Linked DNA regions of Homo sapiens: region 2 is linked to region 1. Evidence: fine-mapped expression QTL. A gene starts in region 1. The other region holds a variant in brackets. All regions are shown on one strand. Distances are between the middles of the regions. Region 1 holds the start of IGF2BP2 (insulin like growth factor 2 mRNA binding protein 2). Region 2 overlaps IGF2BP2 (insulin like growth factor 2 mRNA binding protein 2).

Region 1 (5,370 bases):
CCACTCTCGTTTCTCCTTTACATGTACCTGTGAATAATAAGCAAATATGCTGTCCTATAATATAAAGGTGACCATATCAATTAGGAGCACATGTGTAAATAATCTAAAGATGGTTAGTTCAGTCTGCTGAGGTTTATGCATGCACAAGTCATGTTCATTTGTGATTCTCTGATACAATTTAGTAAAGAAGCATCCACACCTAGTTTATCTATTACTTTGGGGATTAGTAACCAAGTTCATTCTCAACTCCTGGAGCAGTAAAATCCGATTCTTTTTCTAGAGAGAGAAAAAAATATGTGAATACTTGAGACAAAAGCCAGAATTCAAATAACTGCAAATATCTAGGTGAAAATGGATTCATTACTTTCTCCTCTGGATACCTAATTAGTTAAGAAGATCTCCTTCTGTAGAATAAAGTATTTTAAAAGTTCATGAATTCCTGGGGGAAAGAAGAGAAACAGGCATTAAGTGTCTGACCACCCATGTCTCAACACGCTAGGCAGTTATCCTTCTTGTAGCCCTCACAACAGCCCTGCGAGGACTGGTTATTTTATCTCCTTATAGATGAAGAAACTTAGGCTCGAGAATGCTGGAACATCTCAGGGCACAAAGATGGGGGCAGAGAGAAGGTCTGAGTCCGGGGCAGATAGGCCTTCCACTCCAACAGTGTTTACCAGACCAGAATCACCTGGGAGTACTTGCGGAAAATACAAAATCCAGCAAGCCCCATTCTCTCCACGCCGCTCATCAACAGGAAAGCTTGGGAAAGACAATACTACTTCACGACCCAGTCAGGAGACCCGAACTTGTTCCATTCCTACATTCGTGACTTCTCCACCCAAGGACACTCCCCGCACCCGCGCCCCAACGCCTTCACAAAACCCAACATATCCGCGATCAAACCTTCAACTCTCCCAGTGGCCCCCAGAGGTCCAGAGCTTGGAATCTTCTTCTGCCTCCTCACCTCTGAATCCCGCCATTCTTCTCCCTCCTGTAGAATTTCATTTCCTGGCTGGGACCAGGCTCTAACCATCAGGCTTCCAGCCGGGCCCCGGAACTTGCAGCCCGCTCTAGCCTGTCTGGCTCCTGCCCGAGCCCCTCGGCTCCAGCCTGCTCTCATCCCAACCCTGCCTCTTCCGTCGGTCACGTTGTTTCCTCCGCTTGGAAGGACCTCTTTCCTCTCCGGGCCCTTCCCAGTGCTCGGGGAACTCCTACACAGCCTGCGCTCCTCCGCTTCCAGCCACCCTCGCCTCCCACCACCCTGGCTTTGGAGCTGAACCGGCCGCGCAGCCGGGCGGCGACCATCCGTCCCCCGGCCGCTGACCCCAGCGCTCCGGCCTCGCCGCAGTCCCTGGCCCCTCGGCGTTCGTTTCCCCACCCGCCACCTGGCTTTCGCCGCCGCCGCCCGGGAAGCCCTCGGCACTTCCCAGAATAGAGAGCAGCTGCCAACGTCAGGCTGCCGCCTGCCGCGGGGTTCCGGACACGCGGGGTCTGGGCGGAGAGGACGTGACTCCGCGCTGGCCTTCCGCCTTCCCTCCCCGGTCGGGAAACTGAGGCCCGGGACCGGGAACCACTTCCCCGCGAGCACGGTCCGCGAGGGCCCGGCCAACCCCGGTCCTAGGCGTCCCGACTCCCGCGCGCGATCCTTCGACCACACGCGCCGCTCGGTCACCTCAGAGAGCGTGGCGGGGAGCGGGTCTCAGAGCGAGCGCACGGCCCGGGAACGCGCAGGGCGCCAGCCCCGGCCAAGTCGCTGCGAAAGTTGTTGTCTCCCAGCCTGCCCTCGCCTCTCACCTCCGGGACACACCTTCCCGCTTGCCCTGGCAGCAGCGCACTCACATCCGGTCCACCTTGCGCACACCCCTCTCCGCGCTCACTCGCAGCCCCTCTCCCTCCCACGCCCGCGGCTCCCCGTCGCCCCCTCGCGCGCTCCCACCCGCGCCCGGGGCGCGCCTTCCCCGCCCCGCCGCTCGCCCGGCCTCGGCGCCGCGCCCGCCCGGGGTTCCGGCGCCCGGAGCCCCAGCCCGGGGCCGCGACCCGCTTCCGCCCGCCTGGCGCGGGGCCGGAGCCCGAGCAGCCACTGCCGAGCGCGGTGGGCGCGAGGCGAGGGGCGCAGCGGCGCGGGGCGGGGAGGGGGCGCTCGCTCGCTCCCTCTCGGCTGCGCACACGCCCGTACAAACTCTCACACAGACACACGCGGGGTGCGCTGCCGCCGCCCGCCGCTGCTCCTCCTCCCGCCACCGCCTTGAGAGGGAGAGAGAGGGAGGCAGAGAGAGCGCTTTGTCCGCGCGCCGCCGCCCGGCCCGGGACTCTGCCCCGAGGAGGCAGCCGCGCCGAGTCCCCGCCTCCGCCTCTGCCCCCGGGCGGGCCGGGCCGGCCGCGGTGGGGGGAGCCAGGCTGAGGGTGGGGGTGGGTGGCGGGCGGGCGGAGGGCGGGGAGGGGGGGCGGAGGAGGAGGAGAGACGAGGGCAGCGGAGGAGGCGAGGAGCGCCGGGTACCGGGCCGGGGGAGCCGCGGGCTCTCGGGGAAGAGACGGATGATGAACAAGCTTTACATCGGGAACCTGAGCCCCGCCGTCACCGCCGACGACCTCCGGCAGCTCTTTGGGGACAGGAAGCTGCCCCTGGCGGGACAGGTCCTGCTGAAGTCCGGCTACGCCTTCGTGGACTACCCCGACCAGAACTGGGCCATCCGCGCCATCGAGACCCTCTCGGGTGAGCACTCAGCGCGGCCCCCTCCCCCCGCCTCGCCCCGCTCAGGCCGGGACGGCGCCGGGAGGGAGGCCGAGTCCGGCGGGCGGCGCCCGGCGGCGGCTCCCGCGCCCGCACGCTCACTTCCACGCACCAGACCCTCAACTCTCGCCGCCGGCCCGCTCCTGGGACGGCCCGCTCCCCTCCCCCCACAGCTCTGGACTCTGCCCTCGCCCTCGGGGCCGCAGCCTTGGGGCGCCCCCCGTGCCGCTCCGAAGGCTCCCGAGGCTCGCCGGCTCCTTAGGGGCACCCCTCGTTCGCCTGGCGCCCCGGGCTGCTCTGAGCTTCCCCGCCCCCCACCCTTTGAGCGTCCCCTGTCTCACTTCTCCCCTGACCTTCCTGTCACCCCCTTTGTCAGGGTCCCCCCTTCCCCAAATCCAGCGTCTCTTCCTCCTCCCCCGGCCGGACCTTCTCTCTTCCAGTGCCTCGTGCCCAGAACCTCTCGCCCTCTGGCGTCTCCTGAGCCGCACTCTCCTTTCGAGCCCCCTCCCCACCTCGCCCCACGGCCCCCCACTTTTGGCACCCCCTCGGCGCCACCCTGGTGACCCCCTTCGAGATCTCGGGGCTCCCCCAGCCCCAGCCCTCGCACGACGGCACATCCCCTCGGTCCTTTCCCGAACCTCAGTCCCCTCTCGCTTGCTCTCTCAAGCGCTCCTATTTTTCTCTGAATTTTTTGTCCGATTTTATTGAGAAGAACTCGGGGCTGGGGGCTTTCCGCCGCCCGTCCCCCCGCCTCCCGCTCGGCCAGAAGCACCTTTTTACGAGGTGCCCTGTCTCAACTCGGTGGGGGCCAGGGTTGAGAACCGGGAAAGAGGCGACCGGGGGGCCCGCGAGCGCGCTGGAGCCCAGACAGGAGACGGAGAGCGACACACACACACACTCGCGCGCGCGCACTCCCCAACTCTCCCCAGCACACGCTCCGCTCCCAGCCGCGCGGGCCCCCGGGCCCCGGCCGGCGCCCCCCGAACCCCGGCCCGGCGGGAGCCCCTTCCCCACCGGCGTGTGGAGTGGGGGCGGGGCGGCGGCGAGGCCAAGGTGACACCCAGGAGCGGGCAGGGACAGGGCTGTCGCTGCGGCGGACTCCGGGGGGCTTCGGCTCGTTTTCTCGGGGCCACCGGGAGGAGAGGGCAGGGAGGGGAGCCCGGTGGAGCCTTCGGGCCCCGGATTAGCGGAATGGAGAGGTGGGGGCCGGGAGAGCAGCGGGGCCGCGCCAGCCCTGCAGCTTGAGTTTCAAATGAGCTCATCCTTTCAAATTGGCGCCGCTCTTTATTAAATTTGTTTTTCCGGTAATGCCACCCACGGCTATACCTGGGGTCCGACCCGGGCTCGCACCCTCCTCGCCTTGTCCCGAGACACGGGGCGCCCACCTTTCTTTCTACTGGGAACCAAGTTCGCCCAGCTCGATCCGGGTAGGAGACCCCTTGGGGGCGCCCGAAGGCGGAGCCCGAGCGTGGAGTTCCGTGCGTGCCCCCCCTAGACCCCCGCGGGCTTGATCTAAGCAAGGTTCTGAGTGCTTTAATTTCTGTTTTAAAGGTAAAGTGGAATTGCATGGGAAAATCATGGAAGTTGATTACTCAGTCTCTAAAAAGCTAAGGTAAATATACTTTGCTTAGTTTTTTTTTTGCGATTGGCCTTACGTATAAGTAAAAAACGTACACACAGCTTTAAAAAACGTGCTCTTGGTAGTTTTTAAAGGGGCTTTTGTTTGTTTTGTTAGTGGAGATACATAGTTTAGAAAGCTACTTTTTTTTTTTTTACTTTCATTATATAAGGTGTTTACTGTTCTTGGAAAATATCTGGTGCCTAATTGGGGGTCGGGGTGGCGAACACCAGCTATGTTCAGTTCGCTGGGACCCTGTAACTTGTTTATCAAAAATTGCCTCCCACCCCCACCTCCCGCCCCTACCCCCAGCAGAATAGCAGCAAATGCTTGTCAAGACTTCCTGTGAGATGTGAAGAGTAAATATTTACTATGTCAGCTAAATTGCTTAACTAAACTTAGCGATTAATTACTTTTCTCTTTTAGATAGTTTAATGTTGAATAGTAAAATAATTCAGTAAGGGGTCAATATTTTGCATAGCTTTCTAAAGAAGTGGGTTGTTTGGATTGGATGGCAGTTAAAAGCCGGACTTTTTCAGTCACTGAGACTACTGAGTATAGCTTCTGAGCATTTTGTTGTTGTTGCTTGTAAGAAATGTTTGCGGCTAAAATAAATACCCTTGTGAAATCTATAGTTATATTTAAGTGCACTGTTGTTAATGACGGAGTAACAAGTTTTGTGGAGGTTGGATTTCTCCACAGTGATTTGCTAACATGAGAAGAGAAGAGAAAACATCTTTGTTTAAAGTTTATTGTGGACTTTAAATTTGGGCCCTTTATTACTCATTCTAAATTTTTTTCTTCTGCTGTGTGTCGAAACTTAGTTTATATCCCATTCACATACATTTCTTCACCATTAGTCATTAAGTAGCTGGACTGGAGCTGTTCAATGAAGTTTTTGATGACCACCTTTACAGTTTATCAGTCAATAGTTTAACCACCTGATTTTTGTCAGGATTGAGTAGATTTTAAAACAAACTACCCTAATTTTATAAATACTTAGATGTGTTGCTGAAGGGAT
Region 2 (5,370 bases), 22 kb after region 1:
TTTTCCATCACATTGGTGGATGTTGTTCAGTTCGTGGCCTGAGGTTATGACTGTAATTTTTTTTTTTTTTTTTGAGACGGAGTCTTGCTCTGTCACCCAGGCTGGAGTGCAGTGGCGCCATCTTGGCTCACTGCAAGCTCCGCCTCCCTGGTTTGCGCCATTCTCCTGCCTCAGCCTCCCGAGTAGCTGGGACTACAGGCACCCGCCACCCACTCCCAGCTAATTTTTTTTTATATTTTTGGTAGAGACGGGGTTTCACTGTGTTAGCCAGGATGGTCTCGATGTCCTGACCTCATGATCCGCCCACCTCCGCCTCCCAAAGTGCTGGGATTACAGGCGTGAGCCACCGTGCCTGGCCTATGATTGTAATTAAATACATTGAGGCCTCATTGATTCAAGCTAGTTGCGGTAAAGGGAAGAGCAGTGATAATTAGTAGAATGCCTGAATGGGCAGATTTTAAAAAATTTATATTGTTTTCAATTAAATATTGTAACCTGAGGAAACTAACAAAATGTTACTAAAAAACAATCCTACTGGACCTTCTCATTGAATAGAAAAAATGACTTATATTCAGCTTATCAGTTATATATCAATACTTCTGAAATCTGTGTTTTTTTGTTTTTTTTTTGTTTGAGACAAAGTCTCGCTCTTGTCGCCTAGGCTGGAGTGCAGTGGCGCGATCTCAGCTCACTGCAACCTCTGCCTCCCGGGTTCAAGCAATTCTCCTGCCTCAGCCTCCCGAGTAGCTGGGATTACAGGCGTGCACCACCACACCTGGCTAATTTTTGTATTTTTTTTTTTTTTTTTTTGAGACGTAGTCTTGCTCTGTTGTCCAGGCTGGAGTACAATGGCGCCATCTCGGCTCACCGCAACCTCTGCCTCCTGGGTTCAAGTGATTCTCTGCCTCAGTCTCCCGAGTAGCTGGGATTACAGGCACATGCCACCACGCCTGGCTAATTTTTGTATTTTTAGTAGACACGGGGTTTCACCATCTCAGCCAGGCTGGTCTTGAGCTCCTGACCTCGTGATCCACCCGCCTCAGCCTCCCAAAGTGCTGGGATTATAGGCGTGAGCCGCTGCACCTGGCCAATTTTTGTACTTTTAGTAGAGATAGGGTTTCACCATGTTGGCCAGGCTGGTCTCAAACTCCTGACCTCAGGTGATCCACCCGCCTCGGCCTCCTAAAGTGCTGGGATTACAGGCATGAGCCACTGCGTCCAGCCTGAAATGTGTTTAAATAGCTTATTTCCCTTTTATGATCTTGTTTATATTGATTCCTTTGTTGAATGAGTACCCCTACCCCCCTTTAAAGGAAAGATTAATTTCAGTTCTGTCCTATTACAATTAGAATTAATAATATTTCACTATTCAGTGAACTACAATCTTGATTCATTTTAGGTTTCTGGTGCCATTGAGACACAAATATCTGGGTGCCACCCTATGCTAGAAGAAGTTAGGATGATGTCTTAATTACTTTCATGTGACAGAAAGTGGTTAAAAAATCCATCCATTCAAAAACGTTTAATTTAAATCATGGCAATACAGTATTCTTTAATCAACAGAAAGTGAAAATAACTTTGATCAGAATACTTACAATTAAAGAAAATGGAAATACTTCTTTTTTCAGTACTTTTATTTGGGAAATATTTACCAGGAAGAATCCAGTAACCAGTAATACTGTAATTTAGGGCTATTTTATTTTGTTTATTTTTTTGAGATGGAGTCTTGCTCTGCTGTCCAGACTGGAGTGCAGTAGCATGATCTCGGCTCACTGCAACCTCTGCCTCCCAGGTTCAAGTGATTATCCTGCCTCAGCCTCCTAAGTAGCTGGTATTACAGGCACCTGCCACCACACCCGGCTACTTTTTGTATTTTTATTAGAGACAGGGTTTCACCATGTTAGCTAGGCTGGTCTTGAACTCCTGACCTCAAGCAATCCACCTGCCTAGGCCTCAAAGTGCTGGGATTACAGGCGTGAGCCACCACGCCCAGCCTGATTTGGGGCTATTTTAATGTTTGATCACTTGACATTTCATTCAGCCCTCTAAAAATAAAATTGAGATACATTTTAGTTTAAAAAGAAGTGCTGTGGGTAACCTCTGAGATTGAGTCTAGCAAACTACATTTGTCAGAAATAGGATAACTGGCCGGGCGGGTGGCTTACCCCTGCTACATTAGCACTCCAAAGGCTACTCTCAGCACTTCTGCATTTATTTAAGTCTTTCTAACAACAGGAAAGTGTTTGTGGATGTTCTCATCTTGAGAAAAGCTTTTTCTTCTGAATATTTTCTCTCTCAAGGGTTTTTAGAGACCTAAACTTTCTTGATGGTGCTTTGGCTGGCTGGTGGGTGTGTAAGAGAAATTTTATACCTAGTTGGTAATGCTGCATTGGGTTTTGAAATTAACTGCCTACCAGCTCTCAGTTTCCTCAGCTGTATTAATTGCTGAATGCTAAATTATGTGTGAATAATTTAAAAAATGTTCTCAAGACCCAGTAATGAATTCAACAAATTATTTCAACTTGGAAGAGCATGACTTCAGCACCCACTACGATGCATTAGCCAGAGTGGAGCTAGAGTACAGGTTACAGAAGAGGCCAACCCTCTGTCCCTGCATTCATGAACTCGGCTCTGAGGAATCTTCTGTTATTTCCAAATTTGCAGAAAGAAACCTTGGGCAAACTGCTTCTTTTCCACCTTACCATTCCAACACCAGCCTTAGGTATTACCGTAATTAGTCAAGAACATGTCTTGGTTAGTCAAGAACACTTCATGTGTTAAGCTGGAATGAGGATGCTACTTAGCAAAGGACTAGTGATCAGAACCTCTCTACCTGTGTGCTCCTCTGGGATGCATTAGGTTTACCTTCCAGATTTCTTTTTTTTTTCT[A/G]ATTTTAAGTTCTGGGATACATGTGCAGAACATGCAGGTTTGTTACATAGGTATACATGTGCCATGGTGGTTTGCTGCACCTATCAACCCGTCATCTAGGTTTTAATCCCCACATGGATTAGGTATTTGTCTTAATGCTCTCCCTCCCCTTGCCCCCTACTGCTTGACAGGCCCTGGTGTGTGATGGTCCCCTCCCTGTGTCCACGTGTTCTCATTCAACTCCCACTTATGAGTGAGAACAGGTGGTGTTTGGTTTTCTGGTCCTGTGTTAGTTTGCCGAGAATGATGGCTTCCAGCTTCATCCATGTCCCTGCAAAGGATATGAACTCACTCTTTTTATGGCTACATAGTATTCCATGCTGTATGTGTGCCACATTTTCTTTATCCAGTCTATCATTGATGGGCATTTGGGTTGGTTCCAAGTCTTTGCTGTTGTAAATAGTGCTGCAGTAAACATAAGTGTGCATGTGTTTATAGTAGCATGATTTATAATCCTTTGGGTATACACTCAGTAATGGGATTGCTGGGTCAAATGGTATTTCTGGTTCTAGATCCTTGAGGCATTGCCACACTGTCTTCCACAATAGTTGAACTAATTTGCACTCCCAACAGCGTAAAAGTGTTCCTATTTCTCCACAGCCTCGCCAGCATCTGTTGTTTCCTGACTTTTTTTTTTTTTTTTTTTTTGAGATGGAGTTTTGCTCTTGTTGCCCAGGCTGGGGTGCAATGACGCCATCTCGGCTCACCACAACCTCCGCCTCCTGGGTTCAAGCAATTCTCCTGCCTCAGCCTCCTGAGTAGCTGGGATTACAGGCATGTGCCACCACGCCTGGCTAATTTTGTATTTTTAGTAGAGACGGGGTTTCTCCATGTTGGTTAGGCTGGTCTTGAACTCCTGACCTCAAGTGATCCACCTGCCTCGGCCTCCCAAAGTGCTGGGATTACTGGCGTGAGCCACCGTGCCCAGCTGTTTCCTGACTTTTTAATAATCGCTATTCTAACTGCCTTGATATGGTATCTCATTGTGGTTTTGATTTGCATTTCTTTAATGACCCGTGATGATGAGCTTTTTTTCATATGTTTGTTGGCTGCATGAATGTCTTCTTTTGAGAAGTGTCTGTTCATATCCTTCACCCACTCTTTTATGGAGTTGTTTTTTTTTCTTATAAGTTTGTTTAAGTTCCTTGTAGATTCTGGATATTAGACCTTTGTCAGGTGGTTAGATTGCAAAATTTTTCTCCCATTCTGTAGATTGCCTGTTCACTCTGATGATCGTTTCCTTTGCTGTGCAGAAGCTCTTTAATTAGATCCCATTTGTCAAATTTGGCTTTTGTTACGATTGCTTTTGGTGTTTTAGTCATGAAATCTTTGCACATGCCTATGTCCTACCTTCCAGATTTCTTTTATCATTTACTCCCAGGTATTCAGCAAGTACTTTCTTTCTTTCTTTCTTTCTTTTTTTTTGGCTCAGTCACCAAGTGGCAACTTCTCAGCTCACTGCAACCTCCGCCTCCTGGGTTCAAGTGATTCTCTGGCCTCAACCTCCTGAGTAGCTGGGATTATAGGCATGTGCCACTATGCCTGGCCAAGTTTTGTATTTTTGGTAAAGATGGGATTTCACCATATTGGCCAGGCTGGTCTTGAACTCCTGACCTCAAATGATCCTTGCCTCAGCCTTGCAAAGTGCAGGGATTACAGGTGTGAGCCACGACATCAGCAAGTACTTTTTTTTATTTTTATTATTGTATTTTATTATTATACTTCTAGGGTACATGTGCACAATGTGCAGGTTTGTTACATGGGTATACATGTGCCATATGTTGGTTTGCTGAACCCATCAACTTGTCATTTACATTAGGTGTTTCTCCTAATGCTATACCTCCCCCAGTCCCCCACTCTCCGACAGGCCCCGGTCTATGACGTTCCCCGCTTTGTGTCCAAGTGTTCTCATTGTTCATTTCCCACCTATGAGTGAGAACATGCAGTGTTTGGTTTTCTCTCCTAGTGATAGTTTACTGAGAGTGATGGTTTCCAGCTTCATCCATGTCCCTGCAAAGGACATGGACTCATTCTTTTTATGGTTGCATAGTATTCCATGGTGTATATGTGCCACATTTTCTTAATCCAGTCTATCATTGATGGACATTTGGGTTGGTTCCAAGTCTTTGCTATTGTGAATAGTGCCACAGTAAAGATACGTGTGCATGTGCCTTTATAGTAGCATGATTTATAATCCTTTGGGTATATACCCAGTAATGGGATTGCTGGGTCAAATGGCATTTCTAGTTCTAGATCCTTGAGGAATTGCTACACTGTCTTCCACAATGGTTGAACTAATTTACACTCCCACCAACAGTGTAAAAGTGTTCCTATTTCTCCACATCCTCTCCAGCATCTGTTGTTTCCTGACTTTTTTTTTTTTTTTGAGACGGAGTCTCGCTCTGTCTCCCAGGCTGGAGTGCAGTTGTGCAATCTCAGCTC

Evidence for each region.
Region 2: its variant is fine-mapped to the expression of IGF2BP2 in whole blood (INTERVAL, PIP 0.92).

Annotation. Positions count from the first base shown.
Region 1 is chr3:185,822,126-185,827,495 of GRCh38, reverse strand. IGF2BP2 (insulin like growth factor 2 mRNA binding protein 2) reads left to right here and starts at 2,454. Exons shown (of 16, transcript NM_006548.6): 1 at 2,454-2,713; 2 at 4,283-4,343. The coding sequence starts at 2,536. RefSeq lists silencers at 1,637-1,726, 2,137-2,406, 2,418-2,648 and an enhancer at 3,588-4,451.
Region 2 is chr3:185,799,696-185,805,065 of GRCh38, reverse strand. The region is part of intron 2 of IGF2BP2 (insulin like growth factor 2 mRNA binding protein 2); the gene reads left to right. Among named protein-coding and RNA genes, the nearest start is that of IGF2BP2, 23 kb to the left of the region's middle. RefSeq lists enhancers at 1,957-2,458, 5,096-5,370. The variant A/G (reference allele first, on the strand shown) is at 2,890.